2 separate regions of the Homo sapiens genome follow, and region 1 is linked to region 2. The links come from fine-mapping of genetic effects on plasma protein levels. A gene starts in region 2. The other region holds a variant in brackets. All regions are shown on one strand. Distances are between the middles of the regions.

Region 1 (4,335 bases), 69 kb before region 2:
CCTTTACCACCTCTGGCTTTTTTTCTTTTTGATCTGTAGCCCAATTTTGACATGCTTTATAACCATGTGAAGCAACTCCTCTCCAATGAGCTACTCCTGACACAAATGGAGAAGTGTGCCCTCATGGAAGCCCTGGTTCTCATTAGCAACCAATTTAAGAACTACGAGCGTCAGAAGGTGTTCCTAGAGGAGCTGATGGCACCAGTGGCCAGCATCTGGCTTTCTCAAGACATGCACAGGTAAAGGAGATCCCTTGCCCTGACTCTTACTATACTCAAGCACCCATTTTGGTTTAAGAGCTAGGCCCAGGGTGGGGTAGGGGTTAAGGATATTGAAGTGTGATGGCATTATCCATGATATCTGAAGTTCTCTAAAAGCAGTCTTTTGTAATTTAATCTCTGGTTCAATTAGATTGTGGGTGGGGAGGGCACAGAGTGAGACTCCTGTGGTGTCTGCATTGCAGCACCAGCACATTTAGAAAAATGAGAACAGCTAGGAAGGGCCATACAACCACACAGACACTTATCTGTGCTCACACAGTAGAGAAATTATTTTCTTTATATTTTGAAGATTATATTCTTGTTTAATTCTTAAATTGTTACTAATAATATTTGGGAGTGGGAAGGGAAATTTAAACCTTCAAATGACAACTGACAATTAGTATGATTATACTCCTCTCACTATAAAAACTGCTCTTAAGGGCCAAATAATGATA[G/TAG]CCTGTTAACTCCTGTGGAAGAAACTGTCCTTGTTTAAAGTCATGATGTAACTTGTTTTTCCCCCTCCAACCTTCAGAGTGCTGTCAGATGTTGATGCTTTCATTGCGTATGTGGGTACAGATCAGAAGAGCTGTGACCCAGGCCTGGAGGATCCGTGTGGCTTAAACCGTGCACGAGTAAGACTTTCCTGGGAATGGGAAGTGGCATTGGCCATGGGTAGGAGTAGGGTGTTGTCTTTTGTCAAGTTTCTCATAGATTTGTTTTTTCTATACTGGTGAGAAACGTGGGAGTCTCCACTTCCCTAAGCTTCTCCTTTCTTTTCTTCTTTAGTCTTGAATTCTTGAGTTAGTTCCCACAGCAGAGCAGATGGTCTTTTCTATGAAGTCATTATTTTGGCTTTAAGGATCTCTAAATAGCTCTGAAGACTGAAGGTGTAATGAGGAAGTAGGTCAGAACTTGGTCAGCAGGGTGAGTCCTCCCTGCCATTGCTCTCTGGCATGTAAAGTCTTAAGTGATGGCTTAACTTGCAAACCTGAGATTTTTCAGTGCTTTGCTATTTAAATAAGCATTGTTCCTGGCTCCATTATGGCACAAGTCCCATTAATTAACCTGGCAAGTAGTAGGTTGATTCAGAGTACCGTGAGGGGGGATTAGGACACTAGCTGTCAAGGCCCAATAAGGGTCAACTCAAAGAAGATGAAGTGATGGCATTTTAAACACTTTGTTTTGGATCGTATCTAAGCCACCTTCTCATCAGGGTCCTGTGGGTGGGTCACTGCAGCTCCTAGAAAGACAGCTTACTGCAAGGGAAGTTTCCAGAGCCTACCACTGGCCCTGAAAATGGCAGTGAGAGGATCCCTCTTGGACTTCACCTTAAAGGAAGGGATGGGGGATTGCCGGGGAGCAGAGGATTATTTCATTCTCTCTGGCCTCTGTGTCACTTTTGCCAGAACCTTGAATATATCTAACAGTATTTGGTCTTTTTTTTTTTTTCCTTTTAATATTTATCTGTCATTCTTATTTTTCTATAGATGAGCTTTTGTGTATACAGCATTCTGGGTGTGGTGAAACGAACTTGCTGGCCCACTGACCTAGAAGAGGCCAAAGCTGGGGGATTTGTGGTGGGTTATACATCCAGTGGAAATCCAATCTTCCGTAACCCCTGCACAGAGCAGATTCTGAAACTTCTTGACAATTTGCTTGCGCTTATAAGGTGAGTCAGAATAATGGCTTTTCTCTGTTGTTTTCTACTTTACCTTAAAAATTTCAAAAGTTTAGTCTGTTTACATGTCTTCATATCTTAGTGGTATTAATGAGGGATTGATTTAAGTCTTATTTCTTTCTAGAGGGTGTCTCAGTTTTAAAAAAAATAACATCAGCTCTCACTTGCATAAATCTTAATTTCCATGTGAACCCAAGGGGATAATCCCAAAAGGGCTTTTCCCATTTTGAGCCTCCTCTTTGTTGTTCTTCCATTTCTTTATACTTCATCCCTATTTTTACTTGTAAGTTTTATTTGGTCTAAATTTTTTAGTAAAGGAATTGCTCATTGGGAGCAGGGCAGTTGCCTTCTATAATGATGCTTGTCTAGGTGGTATTCATATGAGCTAATCTGAATTTATCAATACTGAGTCTGAGCTCAGATGAACCAAACAACCGCTGGCTGAACATGCTAAACAAAGGAATTATAAATTTTTCATCTGAGTTTGCTAGATCCTTGGTTCTCAAAGCTGAGTCCTAAGACCAGTAGCATTAGCATCACCTGAGAGCTTATTTCAAAGGCAGAATCAAGGCCCCACCCCAGACATACTAAATCAGAATCTGCATTTTAACTAGATGCCCAGTGGTTTATATACACATTAAACATTCAGAATCACTGTTTTAGATCACATGAGTTAATATATTCAAGTGGAAGTAGGCCAGTATAGGCTTATCAGTTACTAGATATAGATATTTGATGACTCAGGGATGGTCTCTAAATGAAAAGATAGGTTTTTTTATATAATTCAGTTATTGGCCAAAGAGTGCTTTTTGTATCTCACAGGATTGGTTTTTTTTTTGTTTGTTTGTTTTTTTGAGACAGAGTCTCACTTTGTCACCCAGGCTGGGAGTGCAGTGGTGCAATCTTGGCTCACTGCAACCTCCGCCTCCCAGGCTTAAGCGATTCTTCTGCCTCAGCCACCCAAGTAGCTGGGACTACAGGTGTGCACCACCACTCCTGGCTAATTTTTGTATTTTTAGTAGAGACAGGGCTTCGCCATGTTAGCCAGGCTGGTCTCGAACTCCTGGCCGCAAGTGATCAGTCCACCTCGGCCTCCCAAAGTGCTGGGACTCCAGGAGTGAGCCACCACACCTGGCCTCTCACAGGATGTTTAAATTACATTGTTAGAGCTCTGTTTCAGTACTTTTTGGCCCCTTCTCCAAGGAGTAAAAGCAGTCTCAACGGGGCAAACCAAATTATTCATGTCGCAGTGAAACTCTCCTGGGAATAGACACCCAAGACCTGAAGCCTGAGAACCAAAGATTTTAAGTTAATGTTGACAAATTGGAGGGCTGGAGTGTCTGATAAAGTTGTCATTGTGGACATGTCTGTGGAAATAGACAATATTTTGGCGGGGTGTGGTGGCTCACACCTGTAATCCCAGCACTTTGGGAGGCCAAGGTGGGTCAATCACTTGAGGTCAGGAGTTTCAGACCAGCCTGGCCAACATGATGAAACCCTGTCTCTACTAAAAATACAAAAATTAGCTGGGCATGGTGGCACATGCCTGTAATCCCAGCTACTCGAGAGGCTGAGGCAGGAGAATCGCTTGAACCCGGGAGGCGGAGATTGCAGTGAGCTAAGATCACGCCACTGCACTCCAGCCTGGGCGACAGAGTGAGACTTCCATCTCAAAATAAATAAATAAATAAATAATATTTTCTTTTGATTTCTAAAGGAGGAAAGAGATCTCTGAAAAGAAGTAGGACTTGTACTGAGAGGGTTAAACATTTAGTCAAGAAGAGGCTTATTTCTATCGTGATGTTTTTATTAATAGAGATGGGGTTTTGCCATGTTGCCCAGGCTGGTCTCGGACAGCTGAGCCTGCTTCAGTCTCCCAAAGTGCTAGCATTACAAGTGTGAACCACCACACCCAGCCCCATAGTGATGTTTTTTAAAACCACAAGGTTCTTCTGCAGCTAGAGAAACGTGAAAGTGATGGAAATCATAGGGCAAGAAGCTAATCACCTAGACCTTTTTAGGCCTGTGGCCAGAATCTATGTGGCCAACCCAGACGTGGAAACAGGGTTCATTTCTGGTTGACTCTAGAGGCCACAAGACAACAGTATGATTATCTTTTTTTATATAATTTTCTTTTTTTAAAAAAGTATAATCTCTTTTCAATTTCTAGTCACCTTCCTATCAATCAGTAGAGGAAGATTCTCATGTGTTCACTATGTCTTTCTCCAGTTTTTTCCTCTATAAATTTACTACTCCTATTTTCTATAGAAAGACAATGGAAAGTGTATAATTGCTGTCGGTAGATAAGTAGGTCTTGAATTTATTTTGCAAACAAGACCTGTTCTGTCTATCCTTTCATTTAGGAGGCTAACAGCAGACTCAGCTTGACTTTAAGGA
Region 2 (4,391 bases):
ATTCTCCTGCCTCAGCCTCCTGAGTAGCTGGGACTACAGGCGCATGCCACCACGCCCAGCCGATTTTTGTATTTTTAGTAGAGATGGGGTTTCACCTTGTTGGCCAGGATGGTCTCGATCTCTTGACCTCGTGATCCGCCTGCCTCGGCCTCCCAAAATGCTAGAATTACAGGAGTGAGCCACTGCACCCTGCCAGTGCTTTTTTTGTTGTTTCTTGGAGACTGCATCTCCTACGCTGCCCAGGCTGGAGTACAATGGGTATTCACAGGTGCCATCATAGTGCATTGCAGCCTCAAACTCCTGGCCTCAAGTGCTCCTCCCATCTCAGTATCCCAAGTAGCTGGGACTACAGGTATGTGCCACTAGGCCGGGCTCAGAGTCAGTGCTATTAACTGTTATGTGTGTTCACCACACTACCCTTGGGTGATTACAATTACAATTTGAAAGGGGGCACGAATTGTCCTCAGAAAAAGGAGGTTCTCAACCTTCAGAAACAGAGTCACAGCTACATATCATCAGTTCTTCAAATACCTAAAGGTACTGAAGCTGACCTAGTAACAGTGACTTGGGTTGTTCTGTTTGGAGTAAGCCTTTGATTGGGGGGACAGGTACAGAGCAGACAGTAAATGAAGAGTTCTAGATCAAACCATCCTAGTCCACCATGAAGCGATGCTGATCCTGAAGCAGGCTTCAATAAGAAGGCTACTCCCAACTCTGGCTAGGGCAAAACACTCACCAAAGGAAGTGAAGGCCACATTCACTGTGTTCTCTGGCTCCAGTCCCTTTCCTTTCTCTCCAACACCAAATCCACTACCTCTCAGGCCATGCTTAGTTTGGCTACTGAGACTGATATTTTTCAAAAGTGGTTTGATGGGAAGATTACAAAGGAGAGAAAAAAACTACCAGAAAAGAAAAGAGCAAGTTCCATGATCCTTTCTTTGCATCACCACACTTGTCCAACTGTAAAGTAGCTCTCAAATATTAGGGGTCTCAAGGATAGGCAGTGCGGTGCTAAACATTCCCAGAGCTTTACATCAGTCCACTTGATCTCTTACCAGAAACTGATCTACATTTTTTCTCTCTAATCCCAACCTGCCTTTCCCTCACCTCTGATACCCCCACCAAAATCCACATCCCCAGAGGAACACTAATGAGCCCTTCTTACCAAAAAAGCAAAAGTAGACACACAGCGAGAATGAATTCAGGAGTCAGTGACAGCAGGTACCTAAATGGTCAGTGAACACGATCAGAATTTGTTTTCTCGTGACTCCCCACCATCTGTCACCCACAAATCTCCACTTCCAGGCAGGACGCCAAAGTGAAGAAGTGATGGGGATATTGAAGCAGAAACAATGAGCATGTAGGAAACTGCTTGTGACAGGGATGTGTTAACATCCTTCGGCCTGGTCTCTAGGCCTCTGTCCAGGTTTACTTGCATAGGTGAAGGCACACAAGGCTTAATTCTACACCAACTCTCAAAAGTCAGCCTGCAATCTACGCCAAACACTAACTTAAGGACCTCAGACAAAGGACAAACTCTATAAAAGTGAGCCCTTTTCAGACCAAATGTTTCTTGGCATCACTCTAAGCCCATGCATCCTCCTCCCAGGGAGCATGCCAGCCAGAAACCTGTCACTGGAAGCCACCTTACCCGCTCTGGGGTTGGACTGGGGCAAGTCGCTATCTCTTCTTCTTTCCAAGTAGGCACTGTAATTTCTTCCAGTCCCTGGGGCACCTGAATCTTCAGCTGAAATTGGGGCAGATGCTGCTAACAGCTGTGGAAAGGCTGATCTAAGCCTAGAAGAGGGTCATTTGACTGGCTTTAGTTCCCTCCTTAGCAGATCTGCCCGGCATCCTCCAGATCTCTCTTCCTCACTATCCCACTCTACTAGAAAGATCCCTTTCCCCTCTGGCCGGCCAGATACAGTCGGGCCTCTATCCCACGCTCCAGGCTTCTTTATTCGCGGCTAAGAAATTTTCCTCCAACTTGTGACTCTGCTTCTCCAGGGCCTGCACAACACCTACTTCTGGCTGCCCCGCCCCCAAATCCCCCTCCCCTAGGGCTGCCACTGGACCCTAGGGCCCCGGTCCGCCCCAGCTCCTTTTTTTCCTCTCCGCCTCGGACCTTACTCCATTCCATCTCCTCTTTTCAACCCTGGAGCCAGTACCCCCTTCGCCCCTACTACAGGCTAGGGCCCCCGCAATCCTCCCCAACTCTGGCTTCCCCGCCCGACTACTCCAACCCCACAACAAACTTTCCGCCGCTGCCAGCTGCGTTCAGGCCGCCATCTTGCCGCGGGGCAGGCCGGGTAGTGGCCAGGGCCGCGGGAATCCCCACGCACTTGGCGTGTCGCGTCATCTGAGGCGGGGCCATGGGGGCGGGGCCTCGGGTTGGGGAGGTGGGACACTAGGTAGGTGATGGTGAAAAATGGGGCTCTCCTGAAAGCAGGGATTGGAGGACTGGCCACAGAAGGAAGGAGGTGTCAGGAGCAGGGCAATAGCGGGAAGCGGGGAAAGAATCCAGTACTGAAAGAAAAAAAAAAAAAAAAAGAATAGGGGAACACATCTCAAAGATACAGTGGGAGAGAGAATCGTGCTACTGGTTCCCCGTCATCCAGAGAATAAAACCAGCTTTTCAGTTTGGCATTCAAAGATCCGCATGATCCAGGCTCTTCCACCTTCATCAGCCTCATTTTTTGCCTCTCCTGGGAACTTCAGGTTCCCAAATTGTCCTTTGTTTTCAGGACATCGGGCCTTAAGATGTCTAATCTCTCTCCTCCTCCTTTGCATCATCAATTCCTCCTATTCCTTCAAACCATCAGCTAAAATGTCACCTCCCCCAGAAAGATTTCCCTTTAGTGCTCCTTTTGCTGGGCATCACTAGCAACTTGTACATAGCTTTACTGTAGCTGTCCCGTGCAGTGTAATTATTTATTTACATGTTATACCACTTTTGCCCTGCTGCTTCTTCAGGGCAAAAACTATGTTTGATTGCATCTTCATACTCCCTAGCAGGTGCTTGGCACACAATAATTGCCTAATGAATAAATGGCATGTTTTCCTCCAATGCATTAAGCATATTTCTGCCTCAGGGTCTCTAAATTTGCTATTCCCCATACCTGGAATGTTCTTCCTCCAAATATTGACTCTCATTTGTGTCTTTGCTCAAGTGTCATCACTTTAGAGAAGCCTTCCTTGGCCACTCAATCTAAATCAGCATCCCTATTCTCCTTTACCCTGCTTTAATGTTTTCATTCATAGTACTTATCATTATCTGACATTATATTAAATATTTATTGTTTATTGATCATCTCCCCACTACAAAGCAAACTCCAGAGGTCTGGGATGTTTTCTTGCTCATCACAGTATCCCCAGTGTCTAAAACAATGCCTGGCATAGTAGGTATTCAATAGATTTTTTTTATTCTGTTTGTTTAATTAATTAATTAATTTTTGAGACAGGGTCTCACTCTGTTGCCCAGGCTGGAGTGTAGTGGTGCGATCTCGGCTCACTGCAACCTCCGCCTCCCGGGTTCAAGTGATTCTCCCACCTCAGTTTCCTGTGTAGCTGGGATTACAGGCGCATGCCAGCTAATTTTTTGTATTTTTAGTAGAGATGGGAGTTCCACCATTCCACCATGTTGGCCAGGCTGGTCTCGAACTCCTGACCTCAAGTGATCCACCTGCCTCAGCCTCCCAAAGTGCTGAGATTACAGGTGTGAGCCACTGCACCGGCCAGTAAATATTTATTGAATGAATAAATGGTATGGAGGTTGGTGATTGACAGATTTTGGAATATACTGGTGGAGAAGAGGGGTTGAAAATACTATAAAATAAGAAAATGCATAGATGGAAGTTACATGACCTCAAGGCCCCACTTAGCACTAACAGGAATGGTAGCAAAGACAAGCCCCAGACTCAGCAAAGGAGAGAGTGAGATGAGGATCAGGTGGAATTCTGCAGCTGGGTCCTCAGGGAGCACAGCCATCCTAGGAAAGCCCCAGGGCACCGAGCAGGCCAGGTAGAGGAAATGAGGAAGGCTGGAGGCCAGGAGTCTCCTCAGACCTAAAGACATCATCCACCCCGAGCCCAGGCCTCTCTTGGCCAGATGGTTCCGGAGAAGCATCTGTCCCTCCATAAATTATCCAGGGCCCCCTCCAGCCTATCCTCTCTGGTGACAGCCGGAACAATTGTCCAGGAATTCCATCTGCTCCCCTGTCCCTCTCCCCTCCGCAGCTCATCAACATTTCAGAGCAGCAAGGTATCCCATTTCCCTGGGCCTAGAGATGGAGCTGGTCTGCCCCTTGGTGAAGCTGATCTCATGTACCCACCCCCCATCAACGCACACACACAAAAACCTCAGCAGAGGCTTCCAGATTCCCAGAGGGAGAG

Direction of the effects. Alleles are on the strand shown, and positions count from the first base shown. The strength of an association depends on the size of the effect and on how common the allele is.
With allele TAG in place of G in region 1, the plasma level of the protein whose gene starts at base 2,314 in region 2 is lower (weak association).

Evidence for each region. A credible set is the group of variants that fine-mapping cannot tell apart. PIP is the posterior inclusion probability: the model's chance that the variant is causal. Protein levels are from antibody-based Olink assays in UK Biobank. Linkage for the fine-mapping came from a reference panel and not from the study's own genotypes, which makes the PIPs less certain.
Region 1: its variant is the best candidate, but not a certain one, in a credible set for the plasma level of the TJAP1 protein (UK Biobank, PIP 0.62).

What each region holds. Positions count from the first base shown.
Region 1 is chr6:43,544,165-43,548,499 of GRCh38, reverse strand. XPO5 (exportin 5) reads left to right here. Exons shown (of 32, transcript NM_020750.3): 18 at 40-239; 19 at 793-892; 20 at 1,748-1,929. It also overlaps a transcript of POLR1C not described here and LOC124900224. Among named protein-coding and RNA genes, the nearest start is that of POLR1C, 29 kb to the right of the region's middle. RefSeq lists an enhancer at 332-1,531. The variant G/TAG (reference allele first, on the strand shown) is at 716.
Region 2 is chr6:43,475,493-43,479,883 of GRCh38, reverse strand. It overlaps TJAP1 (tight junction associated protein 1), which reads right to left and starts at 2,314. Exons shown (of 11, transcript NM_001350562.2): 1 at 2,256-2,314; 2 at 1,652-1,797. RefSeq lists an enhancer at 1,171-1,964.